Regions from separate parts of the Homo sapiens genome. Here region 2 is linked to region 1. The links come from fine-mapping of genetic effects on gene expression. Tissue or cell type: whole blood. Region 1 holds a variant in brackets; the other region holds the start of a gene. Each region is shown on its reference strand, or each on the opposite one.

Region 1 (11,434 bases):
AATCTCGGCTCACTGCGACCTCTGCCTCCCAGGTTCAAGTGATTCTTGTGCCTCAGCTTCCTGAGTAGCTGAGATTACAGGTGCCTGCCACCACGCCTGGCTAATTTTTGTATTTTTTCATAGAGACAGGGTTTCACCATGTTGGCCAGGCTGGTCTTGAACTACTGACCTCATGATCCACCTGCCTCAGCATCCCAAAGTGCTGGGATTATAGGCGTGAGCCACCGTGACCGGCCATCTCCTTCCTCCTTCACCACAATCACCAAATCAGCCCCTAGGTGTTTTTGGTATTCAGATTTCATTTAAAGAAAAAGTTTTGATGGCAACAAATTGTGCAAACTTCTCTACACACTCCACACTCAACACACACACATTGACTGATGACATTCATTTTGTTGTGTGCTGTCTTTTATTCTTCTCATATTCCAGAAGCTCTGTGTTAAGGTAGTTTACAGGCATGTCACTAAGTCCCTAGCTCTGCTGCTCTGAGACCATCTTAATAGTCGGGAGTACTGTTTGAACATTATTATAAAGTACCTACTATAACCTTGAACTCCTGGTCTCAGGTGATCCTCCCTTCTCAGCCTCCCAAGTAACTGGGATGACAGGAATGTGCCACTACACCTGGCTAATTAAAATTTTTTTTTTTTTTTGTAGAGACAGGGTTTTGGTATGTTGCTCAGGCTGGTCTCGAACTCCTGGCATCAAGTGATCCTCCCACCTCAGCCTCCCAAAGTGTTGGGATTACAGGCATAAGCCACTATGCCCAGCCTAGAAGTATTTTATAGGATGAAGAAAAGAGTCGTAAGACAACTATTCATCTAAGACACAGATGTTCTCAATACAGGATCTAGTAAATCACTACTTCATTTTTGCCATTAGAAAGTAGATGTAACTATTGTGATATCATGCCTGTTTGCTAGCACCTTTCTGAAAGTGCACTAAGCCACAGAGGAGGAAAGCAGTCCCTTGGCTTCCGTCTACTTGGATGCATGTGATGTGTGTGGCACACATGGCAGAGCTGTGGGCATCTTGCTAGCTGTTGAGCTTTGGGATCCATTCTGATTGCTTCTCCCAAATGAGGCAGGGGGCATCTCATTTACACGGATACAAACATTCCATTGCCTTCTTTTATTGCTCAATACTTTATTCCCACTGATGATATCAATCACGTTGTTGTGTTTAGTTGTGTATACTTCTGTTAGAGTTCCTTGAGAGTCAGGCCTGTGCATTATTTATCTTTGCAGCCCAAGTACCTGGCATATGCTTAGCACACAATAAAATAATAATTCAATGGGAACTGAATATATGAGGTTAGACTTCACAAGTCACTTGCCCTACCAGTTACTGTATGTTTAATTATTCAGTCAACAAGTATGTGAGAGCTTTCTATGTGTGAGGTACTACACTATGCACTGGTCATATAACTTCTGAATGGGCTGTAATTCAGCAAAGAGCCAAGCCTAGTATGATTCAGCAGGAACTACCAGCCTCTTAGTGGAAAGGGCTTCTTGGGGAATATGTACTTTTCTCTCTTCTAAAGAGTAACTTATGGGGCCCAAAACTTTCTCTCCTTTCATTCTAGGGCTAGGAAAGAAAGGGTAGAAGGCACATGACATACTTAGGTCCCACCCTCATCACACTCAACAGAATATCATACTAAGAATCAAATAATAAACTTTAATTTGAATATAATACAGTAGAATATAATAATTATTTTGAGGTACAAAAATAATTATAAAATACTTTTCCCATTTGCAAGTAATGTATGCTATAGACTATAAATAGTACACTGATGCCAGAAACTGTACATATTTCACTACATGCCTAAGTCTGGGTCTTCCTCTCTCCTCCATCATCACATGTAAGAAAACCAGCTATGCAATACTACTTTGCAATCTTGAAACTCTGTTAAGACATTTCAGAAGTAGCTATCTTTAATAAAAGAATTAGATGGTACCTTTCTTTAAAATAGTATGTATGTTTTTTGGCTCAATCCTATAGATGAAAAAGTTTACAAAAATTAGATTTCTGCCATTTTTGGAATATCTGCTTTTTTTTCCCAAAAGACAGGAAAATGTCAGAGAGAATCTAGAGTGCTGAATTCAACACAAGCTCATTTGAAAGTAAGTCTCCATCAATGGAAAAGCTTTTTGACTATAGGCAATTTGAAAATAATAGCAATTCACTGGAAGACAAATTTCACTGCCAAAACCTGCAGACGAGTTCTCCCTGTCTTTTCTATTACTGTGTTTCCTAATATTTTAAGTGAGGTAAGAATTACAAGAGTGATTCTAAAAATTATAGCAGGTTCTACCCAGATGGGACCCATCTAGTTCCTAAGATGCTGAGAGCCATTTATTATTTAAAAAGTAGGAACAACATGAGGAAACAGAAGCTTTGGCATATGAAAAAAGATGTAGCTTTGCTTCCTAGAATTCAGTTATTTAGGCCAGTTTATTTTGATTTGTGCTCTGAACTGATTATATATGGGTCTAAAGATAAAAGACAGAAAAACTGGCCATCCTCATGAGTAGAGGTGAAATAACCCCTTGAGACAGTCCTGAAGGTGAAGGAGATCTTCAGTCATCGATCTCTTCTTGGCTGCTTCCACTCCTGCCATTTTCTCATCTCCTTTCTATACAACTCCTTCATCCACAAGTGGAGTGCTGGGATAAATGGAACAACTAATACAGTGCCTACGGGGATTTTCCTGACTTCAGTGCTTGAGGAATTCTTTCTTTCAGTTCTCTTCCCATCTATTCTCTTCTAGGTAGGGATGGCTCTGCACTTTCTAGACCTGTAACACTAGGTACCTTAAACTAATAGAAAAAAACTATATGGTGTAAAAACAAAGGTAGTATAAAACATAGAAAGATGTGGGTCTCTTTTCTGGAAATAGGTTGTGAGCTTAAGAATGCTCAGTTGTATGTTATAAGAGCTCAGAAGCCTGGGGCTGGAATATGACTTACGACAGAGAGCCTAGCCATTAGGAGATTCCCTCAAAGGACTTTATACGATTCATGTTTTATTATCGTTACATTAATAAGTGCCCACAATACATATAAATCACTGTAGCCCTACTTTCAAAACTGATGTTTGGGCCAGGCGCGGTGGCTCATGCCTGTAATCCCAGCACTTTGGGAGGCTGAGACGGGCGGATCACGAGGTCAGGAGATGGAGAGCATTGTGGCTAACACGGTGAAACCCCGTCTCTACTAAAAATACAAAAAATTAGCCGGGCGCGGTGGCGGGTGCCTGTAGTCCCAGCTACTCAGAAGGCTGAGGCAGGAGACTGGCGTGAACCCAGGAGGTGGAGCTTGCAGTGAGCCGAGATCGCACCACTGTACTCCAGCCTGGGCGACAGAGCGAGACTCCGTCTCAAAAACAACAACAACAACAACAACAACAACAACAACAAAAACTGATGTTTGTTAAGCAAGATACATTAACAAAAACCTAACCTGCTTTGTTACCTAAAATAATTATGGTACCAAACTATAATGGACTAGTGAGATTCATAAACATTGTTTCTTGAATACCTTTAGAGGTACTACAATTTTTTTCATAGTACTCACCTTTTAAAACATTGCAATACTCATCTTACTGCGCTGTAACATGTTATTATCATCAACAATTTAATTACTGAAAGAGTAATCCCATAAATCTATCCTATTAATGACTGGACAGTTTGATAAAGTAGCTTACTGCCTTTCTTAGAAACACATAGCTAGTTATTCTCCCAAGATTCAGAGATGACGTTATAAAACCCTTTATGGAATTCCCCAATAAAATGGGATAACGTACAGAGACGCCTTAAAGTTAAATGATACAATGATGCTGATTCTTGAACATCAAAGATGTTTGTTATTGCAGCCAGGAGACAATGCCATAAAATGCTAACAAAAAAAAGTTATACTGTTTTCCTTAAAGTCAGTAAATTGCATAAAAGTACTCTGAGCATTTTTGGAAGAAA[G/C]GCACCAGATAAGTCCAAAATCTTATTGCTACTAGGATCATACAGGGTCACAGACTATGGCACTCTGTTCAGCCAGGAGACTAAGTCTCAGCAAGTCAGTCTCTGACCTTGAGGCTTAAAGAGCAAGGAAGGAAAATGTCAATAAAACAGAGCCCTGTATCACAGATTAAACTGGAGTGAAAATGATTTCCAGTTTTATGTCAAAGTAGAAGCTGGTTCCTAGGACGCTGGCGCTATTTTAGATGGACACTCTGTTTTCTTTGGCCCATTTCTTCATGATCCGGATCATGTATTCTACTTGGGTGTTACCTGTGCTTCTCAGTAAATGGAGCACTTCTCGAAGGGTCTCTCTGAGGAAAAGATTTGAAAAGACAAAGTGTTTCAATGAAGAATGAAAATTAAAAAATAAAATAAACTCTGAACTGTCCTTCATACTGTATGTCTTGTAGGGCATTTTTGGTAATAGACTCTTTCACTGTGTATTCACAAAGCAATTACAAACTGCCTAGCCTTATGTTCTTATTGTGGCATAGTAAAATGGAAATTATGTGAAATCTTTCTTGCCAATCCAAGTGTTCCTTGTTTATCCATACTACCTATATACATACTGATAATCTTTTTGTCCTTTCTGAGATGACCTAACTATTCCCATTTCTATTCTTATTCTGCATGACTAGAAAGAGTATATCCAGAAGTTGGGGTTCAAGTTCTAGCTCTAACACCAGCAAGTCACTTAATTTGTCTAACTCATGGATTTCTCCCTTGTTTAAGGTGGTAACCACCTTCAACTAGGCATCATTGTCAAATTCATAAAATTTTACAAAGCCAAAGGAATAAGGGATTTTTTCAAGAAAAATAATACATGAATAAAATGGAAGAGATGGACATTAAGGACTAAGCCTAGCATTTATATTTGAAGTAATTTAAATTTAATTAAAATTAAAACATATTTTAAGTAATGAATGCTAAAATTTCCTTATTGCCCTAGCAAATCTGTAGGCGACTGCCTATGAACCTATTTGCTTAAGAGTCTTCTCATATTTTCTACTTCTTTTTCCCCACAAACAACCTCTTTCACCTAACCAAATGTTTTTAAACTTTTACTTAGAACTAGAAGTACTATAAGGTAGGAAGTAATTTTTGATAGATTATTTTCTTACAAAATTAACACATTTCCTATTCATGTATCAGTAATAAATACATTCCATGAAGTTATTTTTAGAAAATGGAATCGAGTTGTGTTTTAATGTTTGTTTCAAATGAAACTATAGGCTGGGCATGGTGGCTCATGCCTGTAATCCCAGAACTTTGGGAGGCTGAGGTGGAAGGATCACCTGAGGTCAGGAGTTTGAGACCAGCCTGGCCAACATGGTGAAACCCTGCCCCTACTAAAAATACAAAAATTAGCCAGGCATGGTGGCACGTGCCTGTAATCCCAGCTACTCAGGAGAGTGAGGCAGGAGAATCACTTGAACCCGGGAGGCAGAGGTTGCAGTGAGCTGAGATCACACCATTGCACTCCAGCCTGGGCAACAGAGCAAGACTCTATCTAAAAAAAAAAAAAAGAAAGAAAGAAAAAAAAAAAGAAAAAGTATAAACCACTGAATTTTATTAATTTTATGTAAACTAATGTCTCAGTATTTCCTAGAATATGAGAAGGTGAAAGAAAACAAAAGAGTTATCAACCACATCTACTCCATTCCTAATTTTTTGAGACCTAAACTAAAGCACACAAGAAAAAGCCAATAGGCAAAAAACAAAAAACAAACAAAAAACCCAAAAGAGTAGAAGAGTAAAAAAAAAAAACACTTTGCCTATAAAAATGGCTGTTCATTTGGAACCAAATATACATCCTGCTCTTATATTTGGAGGCTGTTAGTGTACTTAATGTATATATGACTTAGAATGATCTGATCCTATTATATATGATTTAGAATTATCTGATTCTACAAAATGAAAGATTTCTGGAGGAAAATGGTCAGACAGAAATATTTAATATCAACCTTTTTTTCATCATTCTAAAACATCATTATAATCATGTGTTTTCAGAAGATATCATCCAAGAGAACAAGTATTTTCCCTCACAAACAAGCAAATGAGTAGAGGTAGTATTTCTTGCCTGTTTACTTACTTGGGTTCTCTCCCAGCTATGATCATCTGGAAAATGCCCACACAGGCACCCCGTTTGCCTTCCCAATATTCAGGGTTAGGATCCAGCCTCTCAAGGACATCAAAAGCTTTGGCAGAATAGTAAAACTGGCCCATCTGAATAAGAGAACGTATGTGGTAATACTTGCAGTAAAGAGATTGCACAGAAAGAACCTGAACATAAAGATAACATGAAACGGGACTGTATGAAATAAGTGCATGGGTGCTGACAACATTTTCAGTTAGCAAGTTAGAAAAACTTCAATTCCCAATTAAAACAATAAGAAGGAAAATTACAGTTTGGGTACATGGGTTCAGTTTAAACTACCTTATGTTCACTCAGTTTTCAACAGTATAACATTTTTTCTACATAGAGTCAAATTATGCTACAATCAGCACTTTTTTTTTTTTTTTTTTTTTTTGAGACGGAGTCTCGCTCTGTCGCCCAGGCCGGACTGCGGACTGCAGTGGCGCAATCTCGGCTCACTGCAAGCTCCGCTTCCCGGGTTCACGCCATTCTCCTGCCTCAGCCTCCCGAGTAGCTGGGACTACAGGCGCCCGCCACCGCGCCCGGCTAATTTTTTGTATTTTTAGTAGAGACGGGGTTTCACCTTGTTAGCCAGGATGGTCTCGATCTCCTGACCTCATGATCCACCCGTCTCAGCCTCCCAAAGTGCTGGGATTACAGGCGTGAGCCACCGCGCCCGGCCACAATCAGCACTTTTGCCTTTTCTTCTAATTGTCTTCTAATCTTGAGGATAAACTGAGGATTGTGATTTGAACTGAGTATTTTTCAAGTCTCTTCAGTACATTCTTTTCAGATGACTACTATCATTCATTTTATGCTAATTTGATCATGTTCAACTCCAGGATGGTCTTTCCCTAGTCTTGTTCCTAAATTCTCAGAATGCTTAGATGTATACTGACTACTATTCTAAACACTAAATCTTTTAAATGTTTAATGCATTTTGACAGACATTTTTCCCAAATGTACTACACATTTCCTTGGCCTCATAGAACATGTTGAATGCCATTAAATTTTGCTTAGATTAGTTTTCTTTTATTTAAAAAAAATTTTTATTCTTTTTTTTTTTTTAGAGATAGGATCTTGCACTATTGCCCAGGCTGGAGTGCAGTGGTGCCAACATGACTCACTGTGACCTCAAATTCCTGGGCTCAAGAGATCCTCCTGCCTTAGTGTTCCAAGCAGCTGGGACTACAGGTGTACACCACCATGCCCAGCTAATTTTTAATTTTTTGCAAGACAGGCTCTCACTATGTTGCCCAGGTGGGTCTCAAACTCCTGGCCTCAAGTGATCCTCCCACTTTGGTTTCCTAAAGTGCAGGGATTACAGGCTTGAGCCACCGCGCCTGGCCAGATGAGTTTTCTTACTTGGCAATCATAAATACATACTGTTACCAATTTCACTTAAGGCTTCAAATTGCTGGGCAACTCTCTTTATGGTTTAGTTACTTCTTTATTCCTGACAGATGTTTTTCTAAATCTTTGACAATTTCCTTAAGACAGCCTTCTTAGCTTAGCCTTATTCTGTACTTCATAGGGAAAACACAACTTTCTTCTCTTCAGTTCAAATTATATTTACACCTTCATTCTTCCTTTCCTCCTTTCTGCCTAATCTCACGCGAAGATTTTTTTTTATTTTCAAGGTTTGTCCTTCTATTTATGTACTCTTTTTAAAAAAAGTCTTTATTGTGAAATAACACACATACAGGATGGTAAATGAAACATCCATGTACATCTTACTAATTATAATGTGAAAATACTGTAAACACTACCCAGGTCAAGACACTGAGAGCAACACAAAAGCTCTCTGTGTGTCACTTCCAGACCATAACTCTCTCTTTCCATACCCAGAGGTAACTACTCTTCTGACTTTTATGTTCTCTCTTAAGTATACACATCTTTAAACAATATAATTGAGTTCTGCTTCTCAGAACTTTATATGAACGAATACTGTAAATATTCTATTATGTCTTGTACCTATGATTCAACATTATAAGACTCACCTATATTGCTGTATATAGCTCTAGTTGATTCATTTAAAAAATTTTTTTATTTTGAAGTATTAATAATTATAGATCCATGGACAAAGATAGGACAGAGGTCATGTGTACCTTTCACCTAGTTTCCTCCAAAGGTTACAGCTTAAATAAGGATAGTAAAATATCACAATATAAAAATCAGGAAATTGACACTGGTACCGTGTATGTTGATGATGGTCCTGTTATTTCATCCTATGTGTAGATTCACGTAACCACAGCCATACAACTATCAAGATACCGAATTACTCTTTTTTTTTGGACACAAGGTCTTGCTTTGTCATCCAGGTTGGAATGCAATAAGGCAATCACAGCTCACTGCAACCTTGAACTTCTGGGCTCAAGTGATTCTCCTGCCTCAGCCTCTTGAGGTAGCCACCATGCCCAGCTACTTTTTTTTTTTTTTTTGAGATGGAGTCTCGCCCTGTTACCCAGGCTGGAGTGCAGTGGCGCGATCTCGGCTCACTGCAAGCTCCACCTCCCGGGTTCACGCCATTCTCCTGCCTCAGCCTCCTGAGTAGCTGGGACTACAGGCGCCCGCCACCACGCCTGGCTAATTTTTTGTATTTTTAGTAGAGACGGGGTTTCACTGTGTTAACCAGGATGGTCTCGATCTCCTGACCTTGTGATCCGCCCGCCTCAGCCTCCCAAAGTGCTGGGATTACAGGCATCAGCCACCACGCCCGGCCTGCCCAGCTGCTTTTTAAAAATGTTTTATAGAGACGATGTCTCACTATGTTGCCCTGGCTGGCCTTGAACTCCTGGCCTTAAGCAATCCTCCTGCCTTGGCCTCCCAAAGTACTGGGATTACAGGCATAAGCCACCGTGCCTGACCAAGATGCAGAACTATTATATCACCACAAAGATTTCCCTTGTTACCCTTTTACAGTCACATGCACAGCCCTCCCTGCTCACCATCCCTAACATCTAACAACCACTAATTTGTTCTCTATCTCAATAATTTTGTCATTTCAAGAATGTTACATATATGAAAGCAAACAGTATGGGACCCTATGAAACTGGCTTTTTTCCTTCAGTATAATGTCCTTGTTATTCCCTGTTAATTCAAGTTACTGTGTGTTCCAATAGCTTGCTCCTGTTCTGGTCACCCTGCAAATGCAACAGGGACTCCCAACCAAAGTTTGGTTTGGATGGTGAAACTGATGACGCCACACACACACAGCAAGAGGATATGAAACGTTTTCTTACATACTTGAAGCCTAGGGAGAGTAGAACGGCCCTATTAAGCAGATCTGAAAAGGCCTGAGAAAGCAAGGAAAGGAGACTGGCCTTGGTGTTTACTGTGGTTAGGAGGTGGGGCCGTGGTGAAGGTTCCTGTGCATGGGCAGGGGCTTGTGTGGTTTAAATCACCCTATGGTGCCAAAGAAGGGAGCACGTAGGTTTTCTTATCATTTTGTCCAGATGCGGGGCACAACGGGAAGAGGCAGGGGTGAGGCTTAAAAGCTGTCAGCAGTCAAACATCCAGAAATGGAGTCAGACTTCTCATTATAGTTCCTTTTTATTACTGAGTAGTATTCCATGCCAAACCCATCTGTTTAACCATTCACCTGCTGAAAGACTTTGTCTCCAGTTTTAGGCTATTACAAATAAAGCTGCTATTAACATTTAAATATTAAAATTTGTGTTATTAACATTTATATATTTCTGTGGATATAGGTTTTCATTTATCTGGGATAAATACACAGGAATGCAATTGCTGGGTCATATGGTAAGTATGTTTATTAAAGAAACTGCCAAAGTATTTCATGGTTGGTTTTTTTTTTTTATCCTTTTATTTTTGACCTATGTAAATATATTTAAAGTGAATTTCTTGTTGAGAACACATAATTGGGTTATGTTTTTTAATCCACTCTCTCAATAGATGTCTTTTAATAGGCATACTTAGACCATTTACATTTAATTATTGACATGTTAGGGCTTAATTCTGCCATTTCCCCCCTTATTCTCTTTGTTTTTCTTTGACAAGGACCTCACACATATGCTTGATAAAGACTTGACTGTGTGATCCCCACAAAAGGAAGATAAGAAAACCTGTATTTGGCTTCTCTAGCCTTCACCTACACCCATCGTTTTCCTGCTGTTCCTGTAGTGTAATAAATTTTAGCCATGAGTATAACTTTATGTTGAGTCGTATGACTCCTTCTAGTAAATCACCAAACTAGTGGGTGGTCATGGGACCACTGAGACAGTAGGTAATGCCAACTTGTTTTTCAAGTAGTTATCTTCCTTTGATGTTAACCCTATTCCCCTCTCATCTCCTCAGGGCCTAACTCCATCAAAAATGCCCCATCCTCCTGAATCTTTAATCTTACTGTTCAATGGCTCATTTTCTTCTGCCTACAGATATACTCCCCTATCCCCATTCTAAAAGAACTCTCCACCCCATCCCCCGCAATTCCAAACCCTGATTTTCCATTTAAGTTAGCACTACATTTTTCCTTCTTATTTTTAATATCAAATTTTTTAAGACTGTGGTCTACATTACACTAGCTGCATCTGCTTTGTAATCTGACTCTATTCTCTACCTCTTACTGTCTTCTCAGTCCTCATGCATTTCTATCCAGTTGCAGATTTGACACTCTCCTGCCTTGGTTTTTGATTAAATGGGAGCAAGAAAAAGTAATGAAAAGCATTTTTTTTCCTGTCCTCATTGTTTTCCTTCTCTTCTGTTCATCCTCTCTTTCATTTACTCTTCCTTCTCTTTCCAGCCCTTAAACACTGGTTTCCACAAGGTTCCTCACCCCATTTACTGGCTAATCTTATTCTCTCTCATACTTGGCTGTTGCTGCTCCTGCTGCTGCTACTACCACCACTAACTACGGTTAACTTCTAAATCTACATTGTTAACTACTAAATCTACATTGCTAATCTTGATGAATACCAAAGCTCCAAGCACAGCCTGTTAATTTCCTACTTCTGTTATCTCTGCTGGGAGCCTCAAAGACACTTCAGATTTAATACATCTAAAACTGAAATAATTTCCTGTCTTCTAATGTTTTCCTTCCCTCTGCCTCCCCTAACTTATTTAAGAGCATTGCCACCCACCAAGTCATGTTAAACTGTTATTTTTAAGTTTCCTATGTCTTAAAGTATTTTCTACTGATGGTAATTCACCTCTTTTTTTGGTAACGATTCACTTTGAAATGAGCTTTTGTTGATTAATTTAATACGAGTTTCTCTTTACCTGACATTTACCTGATTTTTGACATTTTTGGAAGAGATATTCCA
Region 2 (16,774 bases), not on the chromosome of region 1:
TTTAGTTAAACATTTTGTGTCAGTAGAGGTCCCAGAGCCACTCACTTACCTTACTTTTTCTCTTGATTTTGGTAGGTAAAGGATTGCATCTTCAATAAGATTGCAACCAGTTTGCTTCAGCTCACTCCTTTGCTGCCTAATTGAATTCTGCATCTCTCAGATGACTTTTCAGTGTCTTTTTGCCTTTTAGCACGTAAAGACATTTTAAAGTGCTCACATTGTATTCTGAGTTTCTCTCATGTTCCAGTTCTCTATGCCTCATATCATGCCAATAATCTTTTAAATTTTGGGCAGTGGTATCTTGTGCAGATGTATATGCATAAAAAGTACATGTATTCAACAATTACTTATGTAGTACCTCTTATGTGCAAGGCATTGTTTTAAAGACCAGGATACAGCAGTGAACAGAGCAGATTGAGTCCCTCCCCTCATGAAATGTTTAGTTTTAGAGACTGGTAATAAATATATAAACAAAGAGGTATATTAATGTTATAGGAGAACAAGTCTATAGAAGAAAAATTAAGCAGGGTAAAAACTAGAGAATGATAAGGCTTGCTATTTTAATTAGGCCTCTCTGAGGAAGTGATCTTTGAAGACAAACATAAATGAAATGAAGATACAGGTCAAGCAGTATTTAGGAGAAGAGCATTTCAGGTAGAGGAATCATGAAGTACAGAGGCCTTGAGGCACAAGCAGGCTTGACTGAATTGGACTCCTAGGAATGGAGCCACTGTGGCTGTAGTAGAGTAAGTGAGGGAGAAAAGACTGGCTTTTTCTCTAAGAATTATGAAACTTTGAGCAGAGTGACATATCTTAAAAGAATCAGTGTACTCTGCCTTGAAGTGTGGAGAATAGACTTTTCATTTGCATAGGAGGGCACAAGTGGAAGCAGGGAGGCTAGTAGGTGCTGTTGTGGTAGTTGAGGTGAAAATATGATAGAGGCTTGGACAAGGCTGGTGATGAGAACCAGTTGGATTCAGGGTATATTCTTAAGATAGAATTAACAGGCTCTGCTGAGGAGTCAAGGTTTCTGTCTTTCATAACTGGGGGAATAAGAGTGTCATTTACTGAGATGGGGGACATGGGGAGGAACAGTTTGGGGATGGGAGAAGTTAAGTGTGGGACCTGGTTAAGTTTGAGATGCCTGTTTGATAGCTAAGTAGAGATGTTGAGTAAACAGTTGGATATGTGAATCTGGAGTTCTGTGAAAGTTTGGAGCTTAAGTTAAAATTTGGGGTATGACCTATTTCTTATTTTCAGAAGAAACTCTTAACACCATAATTAACACAGAGTTAACTTTTATTACAGGAAAAACCATATGGCATAGTTGAAAAGAAGTCCAGAATATTCCCTGTAAGTCTTAACACTTCTGATTTTTCTTTTGTTTATTGTTTTTCTCTTTCCTTTTCCTCCCTTTCCAAGCAATTATTAGATTAAAATGTTCTTTCCTTCTCACTTTCGGTTTAAGTCCCTGTTTTGTGTATTCTTGTAAAAAACAAAACAAAACAAAAAAAAACAGGAAGAAATACCGTGAGGTAACAATTACAGTTCAAATGGGAAGTGAGCACATTTATTTTCAACCTGGCTGTAAAACGTGTTTTGTGACCTTGATTTTCCTAAAGGGAGTTGAAAGTACCAAAAGTTTTTCACTGTGTCCTGTTTCATGTTGGGTAAAGAGCTTAGGGCATGAGCCTAAGCAAACATCCATGCATGGTGACAGCAACTGAATTTCTGTTATTAATTCCAAACTCTCATGTCCTATGGCTTTGTACCTCATTTTCAAGATTTGACCTTAAGTTCTCCATCTGTGAATTTAATATCCACTAATGGGTGTTTTAAATTTTATACTATGGGCCAGGCACAGTGGCTCATGCCTGTAATCCCAGCACTTTGGGAGGCCAAGATGGGTGGATCGTGAGGTCAGGAGATCGAGACCATTCTGGCTAACACGGTGAAACCCCGTCTCTACTGAAAATACAAAAAATTAGCTGGGCGTGGTGGCGGGCGCCTGTAGTCCCAGCTACTCGAGAGGCTGAGGCAGGAGAATGGCGTGAACCTGGGAGGTGGAGCTTGCAGTGAGCCGAGGTTGCGCCACTGCACTCCAGCCTGGGTGACAGAGCGAGACTCCGTCTCAAAAAAAAAAAATGTATACTATGAATGTGTGAGCTATAGTACTAATTTGAAATGAGTTATTTTAGCATTAAAAGGTGACTCAGTAGTCAGTTGGTATTTACTAGCTGTTTGTGAGGTTATTGTTTAGCATAGTAGAATACATACTATGTTCTTGTCTATTTCTAGTCACAGATAATGAACTATCATAACTCAAAAGTACACAATTTAAATAACAAAAGTGTGATTCTTGCTTTAATCAAATGACTTAGTCACAGTAATGATTATCTGTTGCAACAGGGGAATTTTAGGAAGGGCCACCAAAACTGGCCAGCGGTCCCAGTTGGAACGCTGGTTTAAGAAATAGTTGGGGGAGGGGCCAGGCGCGGTGGCTCACGCGTGTAATCCCAGCACTTTGGGAGGCCAAGGTGGGTGGATCACAAGGTCAGAACTTCGAGACCAGCCTGGCCAACATGGTGAAACCCCGTCTCTACTAAAAATACAAAAATTACCGTGCGTGGTGGCGGGCACCTGTAATCCCAGCTACTGAGGATGCTGAGGCAGGAAAATTGCTTGAAACTGGAAGGCGGAGGTTGCAGTGAGCTGAGATCGTGGCACTGCACTCCAGCCTCAGAAATGAGTGAAACTCCATCTCAAAAAAAAAGGAAAAAGGAAAAAAAAAAGTAGGGGGTATCGGGGGCTCATGCCTGTAATTACAGCACTATGGGAAGCCGAGGTGGGTGGATCCCTTGAGGCTAGGGGTTCGAGACCAGCCTGGCCAACATGGTGAAACACCATCTGTACTAAAAAAAAAATACAAAAATTAGCCAGGTGTGGTGGTGCACGCCTGTAATCCCAGCTACCTGGAGGCTGAGGCACAAGAATTGCTTGAACCTGGAAGGCAGAAGTTGCAGTGTGCGGAGTTTGCGCCACTGCACTCCAGCCTGGGTCACAGAGTGAGACTCTGTCTCGGGAAAAAAAAAAAAAAAAAGTGGGGGCCAGGCGCGGTGGCTAACACCTGTAATGCCAGCACTTTGGGAGGCAGAGGCAGGTGGATCACCTGAGGTCAGGATTTTGAGACCAGCCTGGCCAACATGGTGAAACTCCATCTCTACTATTAATAAAAATACAAAAATTAGCTGGGCATGGTGGTGCACGCCTGTAATCCTAGCTACCGGGGAGGCTGAGGCACAAGAATTGCCTGAACCTGGGAGGCAGAGGTTGCAGTGAGCCAAGATTGCGCCACTGCACTCCAGCCTTAGCGACAGAGCACCCTGCCTCAAAAAAAAAAAAAAAAAAAAAAAAAAGTAGGGGATTTCTCCTTTTGTTTTATTGTGTAACATTGATGTGTGTTACAGCCTAGGTAGTCTCAAAATAGGAAATTATCTTGCTGGTTTTTCCAGCTGGGCAATTTATATTTATTTAGTCTTCCATTTATTCCATTTAAATGTTAATTTATTTTGCCATTTACTGTTCAAAGGAAAAGGAGAGCTCTATTCAGAAGACCATATCAGGGATCCTGTAGCATTTCTCATATTTCTGTATTTTTTGCCACTGTGGTTCTTTCTTGTTTCTGTGCCATGACCCCTTTGAGGAACTGAAGAATGCTCATTGTATATATGTTTAGAATAGGACAAGTAATAACAAACTTCCAAATCTCAATGGCTTAACAAAACAGAGGTTTATTTCTTGTTGACATCACAGACTACTGTGAATCAGGTGATCTTCCTCAATCTTACAGCCGTGCCTATCGAATATGAGGTTCCAAGATTGTGATACAAAGATACGGCAGGATGTCTCAGGGGATGATTTTTAGGATCTAAGCTTAGAAGTAGCTTACATCACTTCTGCTCAAATTCTGTTAGCTAAAACTCACTGTCATCTTCCCAAATATTATCTGTGTGCTCTTTGCTATTTCCCAGACCCCTGTTCATGGAGTTTCTGCTACATTCCATCTTTCTAGTCACCAAACAGCTCTTGGCTTCTTTCTTTACCCATGCATAACACACTTAGTCTCTCTCCTTAGGGAGAAATCCCAAAGTCCCATTCCATCATTGCACCCCGGCCCCAAATCCATGATCTCCAGATGATGTAAAATAGTATGTCAGGTTTATATATGACTTCTGTTGATCTGAGGATCAGTGAACTAAGAAGACAAGTTAACTGTATCCTTGTCCCCCAACCACACCCATTGTTCAGTGGTAGAATTTGGATAGCATAGTAGTCACTGGTTCTTGGCAATCCTGAAATCTCACTCCTAACCCGTGTGTGAGAAATTACTTGAATGGGCACTGATTTTGTTTTCTTGAAAGAACACCTTTATCCATCGTTCTTCCTGGTTCCTGGCTCTGTCCAGGGGGTTTGTTCTTTTCATTATCTACCTAGACCACATCTAAATGGTATTGGGAAGCATGCCCTCCTTAGGGGGCTGTATGGGCTTCAGAATCTGCCACCTGCTTGCAGGAGGTTGAATGCCAGAGGTTGTTTTAATTTCAAACATTCTGGCAGGATTCTGTAAACTATATGTTTGGTTTGTCCATCCATTTCCCTTAACATTTAGAAGCATGAAAAGAAAAATATTTGGTAGACATCTAATGTGTTTACTTCTAGTCAGTGTCTCATGCCAGTATCTGTTTTTCCTATACACAGTTACCAGCTTGTCTCATTTCTTTGTCCTTATGCATCTGCCTCTCTCACCTCTGTGGCAGCTATGTGGAGGCCATCTGAGGCAGACTGGTTCAAAGGCTACCTTCATTTTAAACTGATCTTTGCCATAGGGCTGTGTCCCTCTGTTTGAGTTTTATTGGGCTTCTGTTGCTCAGATTTCTTGTGTTAACTTATTGTTTAGGAATTCTGAAGTAGTGTGATTTTTCAATACCACAAGGTCCTGATTTTTTATTTATTTTTTAGATACAGGGTCCTACTCTTGCTCAGGCTGGTTTTGAACTCTGGGCCTCAAGCAATCCTCCTGCCTTGGACTCCCAAAGTGCTGGGATTACAGGCATGAGCCACCATGACTGGCCCAAATTTTTAGATTCTATTAACTTTTTTTTTTTTTGGTCAGGAACAGAAAGTCTCTAGCGTGCACCAAAGTGTTCTCTCGTCCTCTCCATTTTTATGTCGCCTCTCAAATCAGCCACTTTTTGCCTGAGCTCATGCTTCTTAAAGTACATTCCCAAGGCATCCAAGGATCCCAAGGATCCAAACACATACTATAACTTTTTTTCCCAGCTACTTCTTCTAGAACCTCAAGTTCATTAGGCAGTCAGCTTCCAAGTTATAGGAGATATTTTGCTAAATAGTTTGCCACTGCCTTTTGTTTCCATCTTTATCTTTGCTACCAGACTGCTAAGCCAGTGCCCTATAGCTTGATTTTTATTACAGCAGCATTAGTGCCACTTCAAGGCAATGATTTCTATTGGGATAATGCTAGCTGTACTAACAAATTGTTGCCCAAATGTATAATGGCATAAACATATTTATTTTTTCATTGGACTATAATCCTGAGCAGTACCAGGTCAGGGAATGGCAGGGATTGGGGTGGGTATGGGGACAATTCTACTCTTCCCAGTCATTCAGGGACTGGCAGGCTAACAGAATCTATCTTAAACACATGGCTGAAACTGAAATTGAATAATCTGTCTTAAAACTATACAGCTTGTCAGTGGAGGTTCCAAGATTCTTACCACTTGGTTCTGGCTTCAATGCCCATGCCTTTTTGCCCACATCTATATCAAGAATTGAAAAGACATCTGGACCAGCTGCCTAGCCAAAGTTTGTATTCTGTATTCAGTATGTAAGCCAATCAGAAAACTGGTGATTGCGTAACACATTCAGTTGCTGGGGGTACATTACCTCCTTATCTGGAACTGCAGATGTTTCCTTGCAACTTCTTTCTGGGGCCTCCATTTATTGGGGTCATACAAAATAAAAGATTATCCCTTTATCACTTAGAGAACACAATTTTCGTGCCCTTTTTGATTATTTTGTTTCTGAGTGAAAATTTCCCTATTATTTCACTATACCTTAAAATTTTGAATACTGATTGTTCAGATTTAGTCAGCTTCTACTTTGTCTAGGGTCCTTTTAAAGGGAATGCCAGAACTCAAGTACATTTTCCATGTGAGATCTGATGAACATAGAACAGAATAGAACTATCACCTCTGTAGACTTAAGATTTTTGTACTAACTGTATCTTTGTTTTCCTAGGGTGATACAATTCTGGAGACTGGAGAAGTAATTCCACCAATGAAAGAATTTCCTGATCAACATCATTAAAGATTATGTAAAAAGTTAAAAGGCTTATGAGCCTAAGTTTGTTCCTATATTACCATATTTACTGAATTTTCTGGAAAAGTAACTTTAATAAAGTTTAATCTCAGAAATTGTCATATCTGTTTTCAAGCATTGTACAATTTGAGACTGAGTAATTTAACAATAAGTAAAAAGTGGACATGCTAAACAAATATGAGAGACTACCTACTTTTTCTGGTCATTCTTGACTTGGAAAACGGTATGGAAAAGTATTTAGTTACATGTTTGTTTGTTTTTTTCTTACACAGTACTTACACTAATTTGGTATCAGGGTATGCAACAGTGAAATATCACAATAAACAAATGTAAGAACAGCAATTCCATGCACTTTTGTTTTAAGGAAATCTTTCCGGCCAGGCGCAGTGGCTCATGCCTGTAATCCCAGCACTTTGGGAGGCCGAGGCGGGCAGATCACGAAGTCAGGAGATCGAGACCATCATGGCTAACACAGTGAAACCCCGTCCCTACTAAAAATACAAAAAAATTAGCCGGGCGTGGTGGCGGGCTCCTGTAGTCCCAGCTACTGCGGAGGCTGAGGCACGAGATTGGTGTGAACCCAGAAGGCGGAGCTTGCAGTAAGCCGAGATAGTGCCACTGAGCCTGGGCGACAGAGCAAGACTCCGTCTCAAAAAAAAAAAAAGCTTTCCGAATCATTTTTGAAGAATTTAGAAACTTGATTGAAAAGCTTATTCCAACTATGATCTGACACTCAAGACTGTCAGATTTAGGTTGCTGTTAATTTTGTCATGAGAATGTAAAATACTAAAATCTCTAAGTGAAAAATTTGCATACTAGTGCTTGTTATAAAGGATAATGCAAAAATAAACTTGGGAACTTTGCATTATGAATTTTATTTTTATATCTACATAAGCATGAGGGAAAGAACTGTATTTTCAGATAATTAAATCCAGAAGAGTTACAAATTTTCATTCGTCCCAAAGATTTTGTCTGGGTATTTCTTCCTTAGCTGTCGTCTTGCAGACACCATCGAAGCATAGATGATGCAGCCCCAGGAGATTAAAACGATGGCAAGCAGCAACTAAACCAAAAATCGCAAAGGAGGTGTGAAATCTACCTGATATTTCCCCTCGCCCCCGTCAGGTTACCGTTGCCATTGCTAAGGTGGGAATTAAAGTAACAAAGTCGAATAAATGGGGTTCCAGTGGCGGGTACACCCAGCAGCCCTTACGTAAGAAGCGGAAGATCGTATCCTCCAGGAAGAGGCGGAGTCGAGGTGAGGGAGTGAAATGCTTAATTCAGGAATGGATTTTGGAGTTTCTGGGTGCTGAAGAAATAGGGCCTTTCCGCCTGCGGGCCCAGTGAGTCGACACGGTGGGGGCCCGCGATCCCCGGGACTTACCACTGAATAAATCCAGTCCAGCGTGCGACGACTTACTGGCTTCATGGTAAGGAGGCGGCAGCAGTCCGCGGGAGCTGGCGGGAGCTGCGGGCCTTACAGTAACCTCCCAGGCGGTGGCTGCCAGGCGCCAGCAGCCATCTTTTAGCCGGGCACGAGCGCCCGCCCACTCGCTTCGTGCAGCGCTGTCGCTGGCCTCTTCCGCCCGGAGTTGGGGGGCGGTATCACGTGATCGGGGGCCTTGCCCGCCTTTTAGAGAGGGGAATAAACGAGAAAATGTTAAAAATTGCTTTTTTTTTTTTTTTTTTGCCAACTAAGGAGATAGGCGTACCTCCACTGGTTTTCTTTCTAGTTGCAATGCAATATTAATGCAGGATAAGGTGCTGTCGTGTCCATTTAAAAGTTAATTTGAAAAACAATCCACGTTTTAAATATTACGTCTGGCTCTAAAGCTGGAAGAATTAACGCTTTCTCCCCCGCTCCCTCCCCCACGCCTCCCCGCATCTGATACCACACGATTTAGATGGACGTTCGCCTGTTCATCTTTGACGTAAAAATACCACCCACTCTTTTATATGTGACAAATCGTTGTGGGAACCCCTGTAAATCGAGCCATTCTTCAGAAACGTATAGCGTAATGTATATCTCTAAGAAGAAATACGTGGGACGCGTTACCCGCCATAATGTATCAGTCAAGCAACAAGTGTTTGTTGAGCGTGTCTGATGTTCTTGAACTGCCGCGCGTGAGATACTAAGCCCCGAGCACGGCAGTTTGGTGGGCGAGCGTACCAGGTTCAGCTCTAGAATGTTTGGGGCGCTCACATTTGAGGCCTGAGGAGTAGAATCTGGCAACGGGCCGCTTAGGCTCTAGACGTTCTTTATACCTCGCAGTTATCTTAAAAGAGTTTTAGTCTAGATTTCAGGGAGTGGGAAGGGGAAGAGCGGAGAAAAACGTGGTCTGTTTAGGGAGGAGTCCAGGCCCTGTTTTGTTAGGTTGTCCTGTTTCTCCCCAGCCTGGAGGGGATCCCTCTCTGAAGACTTTATAGGATACTGGTTGGGCTCTGGTTTGGGATCCCGTTGGACTCCTGGTGTTGCTTCCGGGAGGCGTACAACAGGAGGTGAGAGACTTCAAGTCCATCTAACAATTCCCCTATCTAGACACTAAAGATAATTTCCTAAGTTTCCGCAGAGTTTGGTAAGGTTGAAACGACATCGAACTAGTTCTCGTGTTTTCCGGGTAAGTTAGGGGCGAACATTCAGTCAGTGTCCCCAGTGGCTGAGTACCAGTAACAAGATGGGGAGGGTCGCGCTGCCCTCCTCCGGGGTCTGGAGCGGCGGGGGAGGGGCCGCATTTGGGCCGGTGCGCTGAGCCCCGCCCCCGAGGCCGGCGTCCATCTGCTGCGCATGCGTGAGGAAGGCGGGTGTTGTGTTTTGATGCGCGGGAGCTGGGGGGTGGGTCTCGCTCTCTGCCCTGCTTCCGAGCTGCCATTGGTGATGAGCCCTTTGCGTCACAGGGGTCGCAGCCGCCGCTGGGGTCTCCGCTGTCTCGCGAGGAGGGTGAAGCGCCCCCGCCTGCTCCCGCTTCGGAGGGTAGGCGGAGAAGTCGCCGGGTACGCCTTCGCGGATCCTGCCGACACCGACCTAGCTTTCTGGGCTGCCGGGAGCTCGCGGCGAGCGCCCCAGCCAGGCCTGCGCCGGCATCCTCCGAGGTGAGTGAGATTCGGAACAATGGGACGCGGGGGTCGGAAGGGCCGTGGGAGTTGGCGCTCCCGCCTGGAGCGGCGCCTCGGGACCCGAGGGTTGCGGTCATGGCCTGCGGGGCTGTCCGGGCCTCGGCGGGCCAGGGCCAGGGCCCCCGAGCGGCTCCTGCGCGCACCTGTGGATTGGTGCGGGCAGGCGAGGGTTGCGCTTCCCACAAGCGCTCCCGAGGGGCGCGAGCCTGGCCGTGTACTGGAAAGAGCTTGGTCTCAGGGAAAAGCAAAAAAGCAATGAGACTGAATCGTGGCGTCACCACTTACAGGATATGTGACCTTGCCTAGGTCCCTTAAATCCCTGAGCCTGTCTGTAAAATGGGAATAACAATATTTAAGTTCGTTGTGGTTATGTAATGCTCATGGTGCTTATCTTAGTCTAGTGGCAGTTCTGAACCAAAGTAAACGACTATCACCGTGGCTTTGGGAGTTGGGACTTGTCTGTGTTGTGTTAAACATTCTGAGCAGAAATTGCCCGTGACTTGTTCATCCATCCATTTACTGCAGCTTTCCTCATGGGTTGCTGATTGTAGGCTGGAAGGGGGCAGTGCTGAGATGAGCCACATAGTGATTTAAGAGGAAAACGGAGTAGACCTTTTGATAGGTAATTTTCAAGATTATTTAAGATAAATTAAGAAACAGCTGCCCAAGATTTAAGTTAATAGTGGTGAGAGCTTTCTGGGTTTTGTCCATGAAATGCAAAGAAAGCTATACAATCAGCTAAAATCAATCATACTTGTCTGGAATGAGTGGTTTTAGAGGCGAACGGTTCCCAGCCAATTCTTTTTGCTGGAATTGGATTAAATTTGATAGGATCTGGATAAATTTGATAGGATCTACTGAGATCCTGTGACTTTTGTATCTTCTTTTGGAGTTGATTAAATGCAGTTCAGAGAGGTACAGTGATTTCTTTAAGGTGGCAAGAGGTAGGAACCAGTTTATTTTTAATACTTGGGTGATCTTTCTATTTCATCTATTCGTGAACCCTTTTTAGTCACTTTGCCTAGAAATATTAAGTATAATAATTATATTAAGTATGATGATTATTTTGTTGTTATAAACTATCCTCTGTCTGGACCCATATAATCAGTTATGGGTGATGAGCTACCGAAATTCACTTCGTGTTCACGTAACATAGAGAACATTGTTGAGTTCTTACTGTGCATCAAGCACTGTGCTAAGGGTTTTTATGAAATATGTCCCGTCACACAACCACCTTTTCAATTCCATTTTAGAATTGAGAAAACGTGAGATTTTGAGAAAAAACTTCCTCCAGGTTACACACCTACTAAGTGGTGGCGATTCTCAGCCTTGGCTCTGCAGCAAAATTAACATCACTCCCGCAAATGTAATCAGCAGATGATTAAATTTTATATACAGTGTATGCCATAGATGACTTTTGATTTTTATTGATTTATTTTTTTTGAGACGGAGTCTTGCTCTTTCGCCCAGGCTGGAGTGCAGTGGCGCAGTCTCGGCTCACTGCAAGCTCCGCCTGCCAGGTTCACGCCATTCCCCTGCCTCAGTCTCCCGACTAGCTGGGACTACAGGCGCCCGTCGCTACGCCCAGCTAATTTTTTGTATTTTTAGTAGAGACGGTTTCACCGTGTTAGCCAGGATGGTCTCGATCTCCTGACCTTGTGATCCGCTCACCTCGGCCTCCCAAAGTGCTGGGATTACAGGCATGAGCCACCACGCCCGGCCATAGATGACTTTTGTAGTAAGTCTAACTTTAATTCTACAGAGCAGTTATACTTCGTTTATATCATTGTGCAGTTTTTCAAATATCCAGTCTCCTGAAATGTAGATTCGAGCTTCCTGATTCTTTATCTCCCCCATCCATTTTCCCTAGACGTGTGTCCATATTAATTAGCTGAAATTTCCCCGAATTGTTATTATCCTTGTTAAAGCCAGATTTGAGGATTTTTCGGGAAAGGGAAGTTTTGGCTTAATCAGTTTATACTAAAGATGGTGAACTTCATTTAGGATTTGGGAGACAGTTTAGGAAGTGTGACTGGAAGAACTGATTGTCTCCTGTGAGGAAATGTCCTAATTCCTAGAGTGCTAGGATGGAAAACCCGTAACACAGGCTTCTTACAGAACCTGAAGCACTGTGTTTTTCATCGGGTCTACCTTTGCTACTTAAATTCAGAACGTCTCTTGCAGATCAGCCACTCTTTTGTGTGTGTGTGTGTGTTTGTGTGTGAGGCAGAGTTTCGCTCTTGTTGCCCAGGTTGGAGTGCAGTGGCGTAATCTCGGCTCACTGCAACCTCCGCCTCCCGGGGGTTCAAGTGATTCTCCTGCTTCAGCCTCCCGAGTAGCTGGGATTCCAGGCATGCGCCACCACGCCCGGCGAATTTTTGTGTTTTTAGTAGAGACCGGGTTTCTCCATGTTGGTCAGGCTGGTCTCGAACTCCCGACCTCAGGTGATCTGCCCGCCTCAGCCTCCCAAAGTGTTGAGATTACAGGCGTGAGCCACCGCGCCCGGCCAGCAAATCAACCACTCTTAATCTGTATCTAGTCATCCCAGTTTTTATGCCTTAATTTGTATTTTTAAACAGCTTTGTTAAGATTACATTCCGGGCTGGGCGCGGTGGCTTACGCCTGTAATCCCAGCACTTTGGGAGGCCGAGACGGGCGGATCTCAAGGTCAGGAGATCGAGACCATCCTGGCTAACACGGTGAAACCCCGTCTCTACTAAAAATACAAAAAAAAAAAAAAAAAAAAAAAATGCCGAGCGTGGTGGCGGGCGCCTGTAATCCCAGCTACTACTGGGAAGGCTGAGGCAGGAGAATGGTGTGAACCCGGGAGGCGGAGCTTGCAGTGAGCCACGATCGCGCCACTGCATTCCAGCCTGGGCGACACAGCAAGACTCTGTCTCAAAAAAATAAAATAAAAGATTACATTCCATCCATAAAGTTCACCCGTTTAAAGTTTGTAGGTCAATGATTTTTTAGTATATTTACAGAGTTGTACAACCATCACAATAATTAATTGTAGAACGTTTTCATCACCCCAGAAATAAACCTCTTTACTGCCCCAGCAGCAGCCACCAGCCTCATTTCATCTCTCTAGATTTGCCTATTCTGGACATTTCATATAAAAGGTATCATACAATATGTGGGTTCTTGTGAATTTTTTTTTTCATTCATTTAGCATAATAAAAAGTTTCATCCATGTTACAACATGGTACCAGTACTTTGTTCCTTTTTATTGCCAAATAAAATTCCATAGTGTGGATAGACCACATTTTATTAGTCTGTTAATCAATTGATGGGTATTTGAGTTTCTCCTTTTGAGGTATTATGACTAAAGTTGCTGTGAATATTCATATACAGTTTTTTTGTGTGGACAAGTTTTCGTTTCCCTTGGGTATATCTAGGTGTGTAATTGCCGGGTCATATGTTCGACTTCATTTGCGTTTTAAAAAACATTTTAATTTAGTATTTAGTGATGATTTTGAAGAGCTAATAACTTATTTGATCTACATGCATTCCAATTGTTTGATGTTTCTTTTTCTTTTTTAAAATAGAGACTGGATCTCGCTTTGTTGCCTAGGCTGTTTCAAATTCCTGGCCTCAAGGGTCTCCTGCCTTGGCTTCCCAAAGTGATGGGATTACAGGCGTGAGCCACCGTGCCCCGCCTCTTTGATGTTTCTGATGAAGACTGTTTGTTTGTTTGTTTGTTTGTTTTGAAACAGGGTCTCATTCTGTCACCCAGGCTGGAGTGAGGTGGTGCAATTATGGCTCACTGCAGCCTGGACCTCCCAGGCTCAGTTAATCCTCCTGCCTCAGCCTCCTGAGTAGCTGGGACTACAGGTGTGCCCATCATGCCCGGCTAAGATTATTCTTTTCAGCTAATGATTCCTGTGTAGAAATACAAGAATGAATTCTAATTTATTATTATTTTTTAACCTGTTATGGAGGACATTACCAGTCATTCATTCACCTTTTACTGTCAAAGTGGTTAACAGGCTTATAAAACTAGAGAAGGGAAGGGTAAGGTTTCATTTTTTTAAAAAAATCATACTTTGTTGAGATTTTATTTTATTTGAACTTCAAGTTTACTACCTAATAATTCCCTTTAATAAATTCATTTTCAGCTGTAATTTTTATGTGAACTGGAAGTGTTCAGAAAACACTAAAATTCTATTTCAGAGAACTAAGTGAAGATAAAATGTATTAACTTGGAATTCACGGGTCTTTTTTCCAAGTCCAGTAATCCCTTCATTATATAGAGGAGAAAACTAAAGTCTAGAGTAATGTGGTTTTCTTCACATTAACTAGAGCTAGTTCTAGGTGAAGCCTGGTCTTCAGTCCAGATCTTTTGATAACCTCTTTGATTCCCTCCCAACTTTTCTCTGTTCCTTCCCTCTACCACACACACAGTCTCTGAACTGAAAGGTTTTTATTTTTATGTGTGTGTTTCTTTAAATTTCTTGAGTAGGCAGATTAAAAAATGTTAAAAGTAGAGGGAAATGCTGAGAAGGTTGTGCAGTATTAGGGTTTTAGACTGTTTATGAACAAAAAAGCAGTATTATGTATTTATAATCCTGCTTTTCCAGACCTTCCAGGACAGTGATGATGTTTTTGCATTTTCAGTCCAGTAAATAGAAGACTAGACATACCTGGACCCCTGAAGAAACGCTTATTTAGCATTAATTGATTCTCTATTAAGTTATGGTTCTGAGAAAGCCAAGATGCCCTAAAGTGAGCAGGTTTAATATGAAAGCTATGGTGGAATACTTGTATTTCAGTCATGAGTTTTTGTTGTGGGTTTTGTTTATTGGTTTTTCTTATAGTTTGTTAAGGCCAATGAGTCTATTTAGAAAATTACAATTCTGTTATTTGATTAACTTGACCCCAGTTGACTAGTGATGGAACCTCCTGTGATAAAGGAGGTGGAGGAAGATGAATATTAGGCCCTGGGAAACCAAGGGCCTAGTAGTTTTTTGTTGTTGTTTGTTTATTTGTTTTGAGACAGAGTTTCACTCTTGTCACCCACTGCAATGGTGCAGTCTCAGCTCACTGCAACCTCTGCCTCCTGGGTTCAAGCGATTCTCCTGTCTCAGCCTCCCAAGTAGCTGGGATTACAGGTGCCTGCCACCATGCCCGGCTAATTTTTGTATTCTTAGTAGAGACAAGGTTTCACAACGTTGGCCAGGCTGGTCTTGAACTCCTGACCTCAGGTGATCTGCCTGCCTTGGCCTCCCAAAGTGCTGGATTACAGGCATGAGCCACCGCGCCTGACTCCCCAATAGTCAATATACTCAAAATGATTAGTATAAAATGCAGCTTTGGAGTTTATGAGATAAAGTCAAAACGCATACTAGATTTCAAGCTCTAGCAAAGTTTTGAGCCAATGTAAACTGATAAAACAAACTAATCTTTAATATTCTAGTCATCCTTATGGGAAAGGATAATAGGGAAGGGGACCAAAAACATGATTTCAAGATATTCTGTGGCCTGACTTTTGGATTAAAGAAAAAAGCTAAAGGAAGGCTTATTAGGAATGCTGAATGGAATGAGTGATTAACTGAATATAATAGTGTAGTAATAATAACAGCTGACATTTACTCAGCACCTACTGTGAGCCAGGCACTGCCTCTTGGCTGCTTTTTCATTTATTATTTAATCTTCACTAAAAGTTTCCTCTCCCTTTTTAAAATTAGCTTTCTAAGGTTGAAAAAAGAATCTTTCACTAAAAATCATAGGATTGGTTTAAACAGGTGAACTTTCTGGTATGTAAGTTATGTCACCAAAGTTGTTTTAGAAAAGTACATACAAAATATCACAGATAAATCAGTAGTCTGTATTGTTAGTGGCATATGTATATGAAAGGTATAAAGCCATGCATAGAAATAACATCAACTGAGGAGTGTGGTGTTTTTGTTTTTTGTTTTCTAGAGAGTGATAGGAGGGGAAGATAAGGGGCATAACATAAGTGGTGGATACATGGGTATTTGGTACTTTTTTTTTTTATATGTCAGATATTTCTCAAATTATTTTTAAAAAGAATAATAGAATGTTACATAATATTTGAGAGCTTTACTATGTAGCAGGTGCCTTTTCTAAGGGCTTTTTACATCTTCACAAACCCTGTAAGGCAGATTCTGTTATCACTGACCTGCAGATGAAATTAAAGCACAGAGATACTAACTGGCACATAGTCACGCTGGTAGTGTGGAACCAGGATTCAGTCTTAGGAAATCTGACTTCAGAGCTTATGCTTTAAGCACTATATTACTATGCTACAGTGCCCCTTTATAAAATAAAACAAAAGTAATGGGTCACTTAAGTATTTTCACCAAAATAAGTTTCAAGGTCTTTATTTGCATTTTTGTTGAGACTATTTAGTCATTCCTCTATTATCAGGTTACTGATATATTTCTTTCCCTTTTACAGATAATGGCATCAGCTGCTAAGGAATTTAAAATGGACAACTTTTCACCTAAAGCTGGCACTAGCAAATTGCAACAGACAGTACCAGCTGATGCATCTCCTGATTCTAAGTGTCCTATATGCTTGGATAGATTTGATAATGTGTCTTACTTAGATCGCTGCTTACATAAGTTCTGTTTTCGCTGTGTACAGGAGTGGTCAAAAAACAAAGCTGAATGCCCACTATGTAAACAGCCCTTTGATTCTATTTTCCATTCTGTGAGGGCAGAAGATGACTTCAAGGAGTATGTCCTAAGGCCTTCGTATAATGGTTCTTTTGTCACCCCTGATCGACGATTTCGCTACCGTACAACTCTGACAAGGGAACGAAATGCTTCTGTGTATTCACCTAGTGGTCCTGTGAACAGAAGAACAACAACTCCACCGGATAGTGGAGTACTGTTTGAAGGGTTAGGCATTTCAACAAGACCTAGAGATGTTGAAATTCCTCAGTTTATGAGACAGATTGCAGTAAGGAGGCCAACTACGGCAGATGAAAGATCTTTGCGGAAAATTCAAGAACAAGATATTATTAATTTTAGACGAACTCTTTATCGTGCTGGTGCTCGAGTTAGAAATATTGAAGATGGTGGCCGCTACAGGGATATTTCAGCTGAATTTTTCCGTAGAAATCCAGCTTGCCTTCACAGATTAGTCCCCTGGTTAAAACGTGAACTTACAGTTCTTTTTGGAGCTCATGGATCTTTAGTGAATATTGTCCAGCATATTATCATGAGTAATGTTACTCGCTATGACTTGGAGAGTCAGGCATTTGTGTCTGATTTAAGACCATTTTTACTTA

Evidence for each region. PIP is the estimated chance that this variant, and not a neighbour inherited with it, causes the effect.
Region 2: it holds the start of TOPORS, and the variant in region 1 is fine-mapped to the expression of TOPORS in whole blood (TOPMed, PIP above 0.99).

What each region holds. Positions count from the first base shown.
Region 1 is chr7:139,182,213-139,193,646 of GRCh38, reverse strand. It overlaps IFT56 (intraflagellar transport 56), which reads right to left. Exons shown (of 18, transcript NM_024926.4): 17 at 6,108-6,241; 18 at 1,661-4,326. The coding sequence ends at 4,215. Among named protein-coding and RNA genes, the nearest start is that of UBN2, 43 kb to the left of the region's middle. RefSeq lists enhancers at 9,430-9,724, 10,263-10,862. The variant G/C (reference allele first, on the strand shown) is at 3,977.
Region 2 is chr9:32,543,489-32,560,262 of GRCh38, reverse strand. TOPORS (TOP1 binding arginine/serine rich protein, E3 ubiquitin ligase) reads left to right here and starts at 7,677. Exons shown (of 3, transcript NM_005802.5): 1 at 7,677-7,829; 2 at 9,295-9,489; 3 at 15,937-16,774. The coding sequence starts at 7,827. It overlaps SMIM27 (small integral membrane protein 27), which reads right to left and starts at 7,936. Exons shown (of 2, transcript NM_001387564.1): 1 at 7,784-7,936; 2 at 7,256-7,462. The coding sequence starts at 7,828. The coding sequence ends at 7,340. It overlaps NDUFB6 (NADH:ubiquinone oxidoreductase subunit B6), which reads left to right. Exons shown (of 4, transcript NM_002493.5): 3 at 1,309-1,353; 4 at 6,319-7,262. The coding sequence ends at 6,387. RefSeq lists enhancers at 7,189-7,902, 7,707-8,036, 8,047-8,256, 7,903-8,617 and silencers at 8,897-9,116, 9,617-9,676.